Linked DNA regions of Homo sapiens: region 2 is linked to region 1. Evidence: fine-mapped expression QTL. Tissue or cell type: nucleus accumbens. Region 1 holds a variant in brackets; the other region holds the start of a gene. All regions are shown on one strand. Distances are from middle to middle.

Region 1 (5,386 bases):
TAGAATATGTACCATTATGATGGCTACATGTGGGTCTCCTGAAGCACCTAGAAGCTCCTTTTCTCATTCTATTCAATAACCATTTGCTACACCAGAGGTGTACAGTGGGAGACCTCAAGAATCGTTTCCCTGAGTGCTGTTGAAGCAACTCCCAGCCTTGATCTCTGCTGTTTTTTCATTCTTTCGAAAGTGACTTATTGCATTCTTTGTTAGGAAGTGTCTGCTAACAAGCTTTGGCTTGTTTTTTATTCTCGTTCCCAAGTACCTTTTCAATATATTTTTATTTGAATGCTATTTACGTTATTTCTACTTATAGTTAGTGTCTGAAAGCAAACTAAAAGATAAGATTTAGTAAATGTGGAATGGCATAAAAGTAGTGAAAAGAACTTACATGTAAATCAGAAACCACAACAAGCAGATTCTCTTGAGGGTATGCATCTTTCTATACTGGAAAGCAGAAACAATAAACCAATCCTACATATTCTGCCTGCCAAACTTGCAGCTCCCATGTGGCTCTTTTCTCTTTCCTGGTGAGTAGCACCACCTTTGCAAATCTGCCCATGTCAGAAGCCTGAAATGGGGAGGATTTGTTGGGGATGGGTAGAGAAAGTCTCACTTAACCTTTATATCGGATTAATCACTGATTTTATTGGTTCCATCTTACTACCCTCTTCTCCTTCCCCTTCTCCCCATCCCTCCCATGAGCCCACATCCTCTCACCTGATTTGGTAGTCTCCTAATTTGCCTCCTTGTACCAGTATGACTCCCTTCCAAATTAGCCTTCTCCTTAGACATTAAGTCATTTTTCTACAATGCAAACATAAGCATGTCACTACCCTACTTAAAACCCTCTAGGATATATCCAGAATAGGCAAGTCTATAGAGACAGAAAGCAGATTAATGGTTGCCAGGGGCTGATGGGGAGAGGGGGAGTGGGAAGTGATTACTGATGTATATGGGTTTCCTTTGGGGTGGTGAAAATATTCTGCAACAAGATAGTGTGAATATACTAAATGCTACCGAATCATACGCTTTAAAATGGTTAAAGTGGTAATTTTATGTTAAGTGTATTTTACCACAGTTGCTTTTAAAGCCCGATAGGATAAGGTCCACTCATCCCAGCATGTCACTTGGGGCATCACATGGTCCCACTAGCGTTTGCCTGTTCATCTGTCTCTTCTGTTTCCCTCTATTCCTGCATGAATGGGACGACATACAGACTGCTGCATGCGCCCGCAGCTTCACGGCCCCTGCATTTCCACACAGAATTTCCTTTGTCTGCGGTGATCCCTCTGCTGCACGTGCCCACAGTTTCATGCCCCTGCATTTCCATGCCTCCTGCATTTCCACGCCTCCTGCATTTCCACACACAGTTTCCTCTGTCTGCGGTGATCCCTCCACCCCCACCCCACCCACCCACCACTCTCCGTCCAGTGATCTCCTTCAAGACCCCCAAGAAGCTTCCCCTGACACATCTACATCAACAAGCCCACTGTGAACTTCCCTCTCTTTTCTGTCATCTAAACAGGCACAACTGGGAAACCTTTACTGGCAGGTCTTTGTTTCTAGTTCCAGGGAGAATTATATTGTTTTCTAAAAAATAAAGTGGAATGAAGCTTTAAAGTGTTTGTATAACCCTGTTGAAATTCATGACACATTTGTGACCCCCTGGAACATCTGGAACACATGAAGTTAGAGGCTGCAGCTCTAGTGTGGAGGCACCCAAAATAGACAGTTCTATTCAGGGAGCCCTGAGATTAATCTTGTCACATTTAAATACGTAATTACAGCCCTGACACATTTTGTTACTCACCTCTAAAAGCTGCCAAGTGGTCTGTTATCTTTGATTTGTGAATGGTGAGTGGCTTGATTATAAACAAGAGTGGTTTATTTTTCCACACTCAAAAATATATTTATTTTTGAAGTTAATATCAGTAAAATGCTGTATGTGAATCTGCTTAAGAATATGCTTTGTTTGGGAATTTTGTGGCATGTGAAACAACTTTGTCCCTTAACAAGCTTTCTCTTCCCGCAATATTAATGACACAATTTACAATGCCATTAGGGTCATTACACATGGCAGCTCAGAAATTGGACCAGGGTCAGGTAGGTCACTGAGAGGAAGAGTAAGAACACCTGACCCCTTCAGC[G/A]CTCCTTCACCACTTGATAATTATGGACAGGGAAGGTGTGTGTGAGTGCGCATGTGCGTGAGTAAATACCAGGAGAGCGGATACCCAGGAAGTGAGGTCATGAGTAGGTATTAAACAAATTTCTACTTGTATTCATGAGTAGGTGTTAATCAAATTACCTTGATGTAAACAGAGAATTCCCTGGTTTGCCACAGAGTAGAAAAAAATTCTCAACAGTGGTTTTCAACAAGCAGTTGGAACAACAGCATCAGCATTGCTTTGGAATTGTTAGATATGCAAATTCTTAGGCCCTGCCCTGGACCTTCCGAATTGGAAAGTCTGGAGGTGATGCCTCACGATCTCTTTTAATGAGCTCAGGTATTTTTATGCACGTTCAAATTTGAGAGTCATTGTTTTGTTTTTTCGTTTGTTTTTGAGGTGGAGTCTCACTCTGTCGCCCAGGCTGGAGTGCAGTGGTGCCATCTTAGCTCACTGCAACCTCTGCCTCCCAGGTTCAAGTGATTCTCCTGCTTCAGCCTCCCCAGTAGTTGGGATTACAGGCGTGCATCACCATGCCTGGCTAATTTTTTTTTTTTTAATTTTTAGTAGAGGCAGGGTTTCGCCATGTTGGCCAGGCTCTTTCAAACTCCTGACCTCAAATGATCCGCCCACCTCAGCCTCCCAAAGTGTTGGGATTACAGGCATGAGCCACTGCACCCAGCCAAGAACCATTGTTTTAAACAACCTTTTTTAAACCAAGGTTTTTTATGAAAATGTAGGAACACCATGTTCTAGGGTAGTTTAGGTTCATATAAGCATATATACATATATATTCATTTATATTTAGAGATGGGATCTCCTTTTGTTGCCCAGGCTGGAGTGCAGTGGCTCAGTCAGCTCACTGTAGCCTCAAACTCCTGCAATCAAGCGATCCTCCTGATCTCAAGCAATCCTCCTGATATAGGCATTTTGATTCTGGATTTTCAATATAGATAAGTGTTGGAAGAATAACGAAAATGACCAATATTTACTGAAGACCATCCCAGGCCGGGCACTGTGCTAAGTATTCCAGGGACATTATTCCACTAACTCCTCACACAACTCACAACTACCCCACGAGGTAATACTTGTTTCCCAATTGTAAAGTAAAGGAACCTGAGGCTCAGTGAGGTTAAGTTCCTTGCCCAAGGTCACACAACGTGCAGTGCCTCTTGCCATGCTCCTGCACTCTGACTTCTGAGCCCAGGCTGTGAAGCACTGTGCTATCCTTTGTTTGTCCTTTGTTAGCTGCAGCACTGGTTCTGGGGGCAGGATGACCTTTAGCTCTTGGGTATTCAATTTATTGGTGTTCCGGACCATTGCTGCCAAACTCATTTCCAGTTGAAGCAGCTGGGTTTTGTCACACATATGACTTTGTTAAGTGTCCTCAGCTGAGCTGAAGCTGCACAGAAATCACTCATCAGATTCCTGCCAGGGCCAAAGATATGGATGAAAATCTGCAGGAAGAAATGTCTAGCCTGGGATTGCGGGGCGGCAAAAGTTTCCCTCTGGAGTCCTATGAAGGGGTTCTTGTCACACATGTTTACTTTCAGTTTGTGATAAAAAGTGGGCATGCTGGGTTTCCAGTTGCAAGCTTCTACACAAATGGTAGATGGGTTTCACAGTCATTGCAGTGAGGCACAAATGACCATTGATCAACTGCAGCAAAACACAAAAGTTTCACATTTGCATGTGAAAGAGTTAAGTCTGGTCCCACATCTGCAAATGGGATCTGCCTCCCTCACTGTAATATGTGAAATACAAAAATACAGAAAATTATGTTTATATCTGCAATAATTTTTTTCATCAATAAACCTCAGAGGGCTATTGAGAGGTGAATAAAAATGTTCCGTGACTAAGCTGCAAATTTCAGTTCAAAGATAAGGAATGATTGAGTAGAGGGTTTGATTAAAAACACCACACCGGTGTTTGCATCAGAAGTCAGGGTTCTAGCTAGTTATCTCACTTAACAATTGTGTGACTTGGACAAGCCACTGAATAATTCCAAATAGCTCAGTCATCTCAATGCTCATGTGAATGGTGCTCCCTGTAGTTGTTCAGTGCACAGCTTGTATAGCTGCGAGCTGCAAGGTAAATATCATCTAATAGTGTTAATCCTACTTACTGCACGTCAAGGTTGTAAGATGGAGGGTGTTGGGATATAGGGGCAGATTTTCAATATAATAAATGTACTATCCAAATATACTTTTTCTGCCTCAGTTTCCTTCAGATTGAGACAAGTAGAAGAACCCAGCCTCTTAGGAAGGGCCTTGTGAAGGTGACCTTTAATTGCTGATCGTGATTCTGCAGCTAGAAGTTACTGAAAGTGATGTCCTTTTTGCATACGTTTATTCACTTCATGCACTGGTACCTCCTGTCCATTCTCCACATATGGAACGAGACATCTCAGGCCAGGCTGACCTCTCCTGCATGTAACTTCCCAACACTCAGTGTCAGTCCTTGCCCTTTTGGCACTGAATCATGACAGCTTCCCGTTTCCCTCTACTTGGAATATTAGCTGACGCTAGAGGCTTAACGAGTACAGAGACCAGTCCCCTTTTGCTGATTGGATCTCATCATTAGAGATGTTTTAGGAATGCTTTATATCACCCAACAAGGGCTTGGGTTACGTAGGTGTCTGCATTTGTCAGAACTGGTGAGTCTACACTTAAGACTAGCGCATTTCATTGTATCTTAACTTGACTCAAAAGAAGAAAATCTGTAAACACATGTTGAACTCTGATGAATAATGTGATGCTGAAGTGTGTGGGGGAAGTGCACTACATGCCCATTTTACTTTGAGATGTGTCAAAAATATAAGATGGATTAGTGGATGGGTGTGGGATGCATAGAGGCACCCTTATGTGAGAAAGCAAGTAAAGTGAAAGTTCATGACTCAAAATCGTCACTATATGAATTGTTTTCGAATTTGCTATGTTTTAAAATGTTTTATAATCCAATATTAGGAAAAAAAAGAATGTTCTAACTCTATGCTGCTCAAAACATGACTTTCTTTCATTTCAAGTGTCAAGTTTTTTGTTTTGTTTTTTTTTTTTTTGTTTTTTGGTTTTTTTTTTTAAGAGATGGGGTCTCATTCTGTCAACCAGGCTGGAGTGCAGTGCATGTGGCATGATCCTAGCTCACTGCAGACTCCAACTCCTGGGTTCAGGTCATCTTCCTGCCTCAGTCAAGGATGTTTTTGGTTTTTTAATTTTTTT
Region 2 (5,386 bases), 19 kb after region 1:
TGGTATTTTATGTGAAATAGAATTGTTTATCCACCTTTAAGTTAAGGGAAGTTTTGACCTAGTTTTGCTCTTTAGAGGCAATGAGACCCTTACAAATAGATTTTTTAAAAAATCTAGCTTAATTTAAACTCATAAACTACAATAAGGTATTTAGAAAGTCAACCCTTTCTTCCAGTACGAATACAAATTCTATTTTGTGTCATGGCAGGACTGGAATATTCCTCTGTTGGTTACAAGCTGAGACCTGCCAGCAATAACAAACTGATGGTTCCCGCTACATTATGCCCGAGAAAAGGATTCTGGTAGAAGAGATGTAATTCAAATTAGATATGCTAAGATGAAATCTTCTCAACTCTTTTCATCTGTGGATAAACAAACCAAAAGCGAATGTCTAATTCTGAAAAATACTCCATATTGTTTTCTTCTTAATAACTCAACTACTTAAGCCACTGGTTGAGGAGTTGAAAAAATATAAAATTTCAACCTCTGCTTTTCGCAGTTAGAAAAAAGCTGATTTAATAGCTTAGAACCCCAACAACCGTTGGCCAAATCCCACATGAAGCTGTGCAGTGATTCTTAAGTGGCTTTTTAAAAGACTCTCTCATTTATAATGAAAATATAAACTAAAATCCAGACTGCCATATGTAATCTTTTCCCAGAGAGAAAAGCTTGCTCCAAATTTGTTGACGGCTAAAGAGAAAGCCAGTGAGACTCCCAGCAGTAAAACTGGGCCAGGATGAAAGAGGTAGAACTGAATCCTTTGACCAAAATTCAGATGGAGACCTATGTGTTTTCTGGGATTTCTATGAACCTGAACATAGGGAATATGTACCAGCAAGAGGTAAAACTAATTTGCGATCATGTCAAATCTGGAGCTTCTAATAGTTCAGTCTTGCACTTCACAACTTGCATGTGGAATTCCAGTGAAAAGAAAAGCAATACGCGTTAAGAAATCTCCAATGTGCCATTGAGGATTTAGGGATGAAGTTTCCATGTTCTTCCTGTTTTGATAGTTTTAAAAACCAGTTTTTGTTAACGGTGTATCTGATCCAGCTGTGAACTTATCTGTGAATGTGACTATCTAGAAAATTAGCAAATCAGTTACCATTTATCTTAGGTAATGCTGTTTCGTGTAGTAAATGATCAGTATAAACTATTTTTGTTCAATATTACAGTGAATATAAATGTTATATATAATCAATATAACATATAAGTACTAAAACCTTTTCCTTTACATGCCTTCTTTCTTTTTTCCACTGAGTACTTGAAAAAACAACTCTTGCACATCTTCTAGGATTCAGCCCCATGAACAGGAAATGTGATTTAACAGCACTTAAGCTTCTGAGAGTTAAATGAATCTGGCTATTGATTGCTTACCAGCATTAGGTGGGTTATCAGAAATGTATGCTGTTAATTTGGCTGGCAATGGGATTGACAGTATAACAGCACTACCACCGAAAGCAGCTTTGGTTTTAATCTCTAGAACTTTTGTACCAAAGCAGCTTGGATCTGCCAGGGATTTGTGTTTTAAAGGGATTATGTTAAAGATTATTAAAGTTGAACCCTCAAGGGACAAGGCTGGATATTCATGCTAGAAATGCAACTCCGGATCTCTACCGGCCAAGTCACTTCTGAATGTTTGAGGATTCCTGTCACACTCTAAGTTGCTATGAAAGTGTAGACTGGCTAAAGAAAAATCTTCCTTAGGAAAAGGCTGATTGGGAGTTGGCAAGGCAACTATAAACAGGACCCAGCCTTTCCCATTTTAGAACATTCAACGAGTCTAAGAGCTGGAAATGGAACGGCAGAATCATCTGAATACCTAAAAGTTAAGAAGATAGCAAAAGTGCACTTCATTAATTAAAGAAGATAAAATCAAGAAACAGAGTTGGGGGATGGAGCTAGCAAAGAGCTAAAGAGGCCTTCATTCTGTGGTCAGTGGAAGCAGTGTCAGATGGGTGAGATGGCCTGAGGCGGCCTCACGGGGCTGAGGGCGTTGAACAGGTCCAGGCAGTCCTCCAACCCTGAGCTGGACCAAAGGGACTGGCTGCACAGGCTGAATAAGAGGCACTGCCCACAAATCAATTAAAATATTTCATAATTAAGAAAAAAGCATTTCTAAAGCACAGTGCCCCAGGAAAGGAATTTGGAATAAGCCCAATAATAAAACAAACTGGACCTCTATTTGAGCTACTATCCTATGTGGAAGTGCTGGCTGTGTCATGAGCTCCTTCCTCAAGAGAAAACCTAAGACCTATGCAGGGCTCTTCCTAGACTGCCAGTAGGATGACACATTCAGGTGACATGAATCACAGAGGAGGGAGGTACTACCAACCCCCCTCCCAACATGACACATTTACATATTCAAAAGATGACAAAAAATCAAGCTCCGAGTGCTTGCAATTCATTTGGAAGAGATAAGGCTAGGACATAGCCGAACAATACTTCAAAATACTTATTAAGCAATAAATAACCAGCTGCAGTTGAACGCTCTCTAGATTCCACAGTCTAGTTTAATCCTATTTCAGCCATTTAGATTCCTGCATAAGAGCTCTGGCGCGTAAAATTCCAAGTGGGGTAAGACACAAAAATTTCCAAATATATGCCTTGATAATACTTTCCTGAAATGGAAATGTACTTACTACTCTTATTGATTAAAAGAGCAGATTGAGAGCAGTCTAAATATCCATTATTGGGTCTTCTCATATAAATATGATGTATTCCTGTTTTGTTTGTTTGTTTGTTTGGGTTTTTTTTTTTTTTTTTTTTTTTTTTTTGACTAGAGAATGAGGAAGCTCACTATGGACTGATATGGAAGGAACTATGTATCATTCAGTGCTCAAACACAAAAGTAGAAACCTCTCTATATATCTCAAGCAGAGTAGGATGGAACACAGGAAATTGGTTAAAAACTACTGGAAGGACTGAGGAGCAAAAAAAGAAGGGGCTCTTACCCAAAGAGGCTGGGAAGCTGCCACTGGCCCTTGGCTGAATCCTGTCAGGGATACTCAGTGTTGATCTTGCTGAAACTATCCCCGGATTGCTGGAGCCCAGAGCACAGGCAGTCCAGGCCAGCTGGGGAAAATGGCTAATCTCCTCCTCCCACACTGGAACCTAGCACCAGCGCCTCCCATGAAACCAGCTGGATGAGTGAGTCTGGGAAAGAGGATGGAGGATTATCCAGAAGGGTGGACTTGGACTTAAGAGTCAAGAGACACAATCCAGCACATCCACCCTTTTGCTACTCAGCATCCACACATTCCATTGTACGCACCCTACAGCAACATCACACTTCTTCCTCACAGAATGCAATTTTATTCCTCACACAGATGAACACAAGTTCACTCTCTCCCTAAAACAGATAATTCAGAGTAAAACCCTGTAAGATAGTGGCCTCAGCCACTGTATTCATCCCAGGGTGATGTTAAATTTTTTCCTTTCAGACACCATTGCACCTTTTATAATGGATGTTCTACAACCTAAAGGCTAAGTTGTAAAATTAACCACCAACACTCAGTGTTATGCAGAGTAAACAAAGAAGAAAATGTGCATAGCTGCTACGGGTTTTGTTTTGGTGACTGGTAACAAAACTAGTTGACTGATGATGATAATAGTTAAATAATAATTGAGAATGAACTTCTTCCAACGTCCATTCCATCTTCCTTTTACCTTCAGCCAGCAACTGAAGTTAGTTGTCTGGGGTTCTTTTCTTGGCAAGATTATTGAAACCTTCATTTTTGAAGGGTCTAAGTCTTTAGCTGTCCTGCAGGTTGCAATATTATTCCAGAAACTTTTACTCTTGGACATGGAAGTGCTAAGAGGCACCCAGGAGAATTTCCAGGGCTTCAGACATAGTCCTCTCTGCCACCATTGTGTGTCACGGCAACCCAATTACTCCCTGGTAATAATTCTGTTCAGTCACCCCAGCCAGAAAAGTAACCCTCTTCTTTGCCTGTCCATTTAGTGGCAGAAGAAACTTGAAATGGGCAGACAGAAGTATCGAATTCCAGTTCAGTGGAACGTTATTGTTTCCCCTAGAGGAAGCGTTCTCTCCTAGGAATCAAGACCTTTAAACCAGCTGATCTATGTTTTGTAGAAGGAGGGCAAATATTCTGTGAGTGATATTCAGGATGTGATAGTGAGAGTAGCCACTCTCATTTTTACCCCTTGACTCCCAGGTCTGTGTATCCTGACTATGAGAGACATAGCATCACTCATTTGCTGATTCAAAGCATAATCTACGTGCAGTAAGAAAGCCACCTAGACTGCAGGCAGTTATCTTCCAGATGGTACCATTTTTGAAACTTCAGTTATCTATTTCTAAATTTTGTAATGATAACTACCTTTGGGTGCTGGAGTACATGGTAATCCAATAAGTCCCATGGGCATGATACCAATGCTGTACTACTTTTGCTGTAAAATTAGTTCTTTGGTCACAAGCAAAGAACTTCTTTGGTCATAATCATCATGCTATTAAATAAGGCTCTGTGTTAAGTTCACAGATGGTGGTACTGATAAACCCACTGCAGGCAGTGAATGCACAGCATATTTAGAAATAGTGTCCCAGCCTGGGCAACATAGCGAGACCCTGTCTGAACAAAAAAATTTTTTTTAAAAAAGAGCTGGGCATGGTGGTGAGTGCCTGTAGTCCTAGCTACTTGGGAGGCTGTGGCAGGAGGATCACTTGAGCCCAGGAGTTCAAGGTTATAGTGAGCTATGATTGCACCACTGCACTCCAGCCTGGGTGACAGAGTGAGACCCTGTCTCTATTTAAAAAGAAAGAAAGAAAAAATAAATAGTGTCTATTCTAGAGGACAAAATCATGTCCTTCATAATAGAAGTTCCATGCAATAATCTGATGGCTGACTGGTCCCCCTGGGGAATGACTCCACATCAGAGACTCAGAGATGGTAGAGCCCCTGTCAGCAAGTTAGTCATTTATCAGTGACAGGAGCCAGACCAGTTTGATGAGGGGAAGTCCACATTGTTGAACTCATGTCTGGCTTCTCTCCCTGCCACAATGGCCATGCTCTTCATGAGCCTATTAAGCAAGCCTCGGGGTTGCTGGAAATGGACTGACTGACATCCACAGAACAGGCTATCCTGTCAGTGGACTGCTGAGGGCCTCATCAGTGGATGCCCTCTAATGAGAATTCATATGTGATAGTGCCCATAGGGAAAGGTCCATCTGCAAACCTTTTTCCTAGACTTCGTTGTCACCAGTATGCTAATAAAACCATTAATGACCCATCAATTGGTATATATCTCGACTTCTGGCCATCTCTCCCTCCAGATAACATGCTCAGTGTTTGGTCCTGAGAGAGCTCCTCTTACCACGTTCCTGATTTGGGCTGCAATGCTTCAGCAGTCCACATCTACCTGGTGC

Direction of the effects. Positions count from the first base shown, and alleles are read on the strand shown. Sizes are in standard deviations (SD) of each study's normalised expression.
With allele A in place of G in region 1, the expression in nucleus accumbens of the gene that starts at base 3,086 in region 2 is higher (large effect, 1.0 SD a copy in GTEx).

Evidence for each region.
Region 2: it holds the start of CPVL-AS2, and the variant in region 1 is fine-mapped to the expression of CPVL-AS2 in nucleus accumbens (GTEx, PIP 0.93).

What each region holds. Positions count from the first base shown.
Region 1 is chr7:28,996,390-29,001,775 of GRCh38, reverse strand. The region is part of intron 12 of CPVL (carboxypeptidase vitellogenic like); the gene reads left to right. CPVL-AS2 (CPVL antisense RNA 2) reads right to left here. Exons shown (of 5, transcript NR_038965.1): 3 at 721-807; 4 at 392-447. Among named protein-coding and RNA genes, the nearest start is that of CPVL-AS2, 19 kb to the right of the region's middle. The variant G/A (reference allele first, on the strand shown) is at 2,151.
Region 2 is chr7:28,977,667-28,983,052 of GRCh38, reverse strand. It overlaps CPVL-AS2 (CPVL antisense RNA 2), which reads right to left and starts at 3,086. Exons shown (of 5, transcript NR_038965.1): 1 at 2,955-3,086.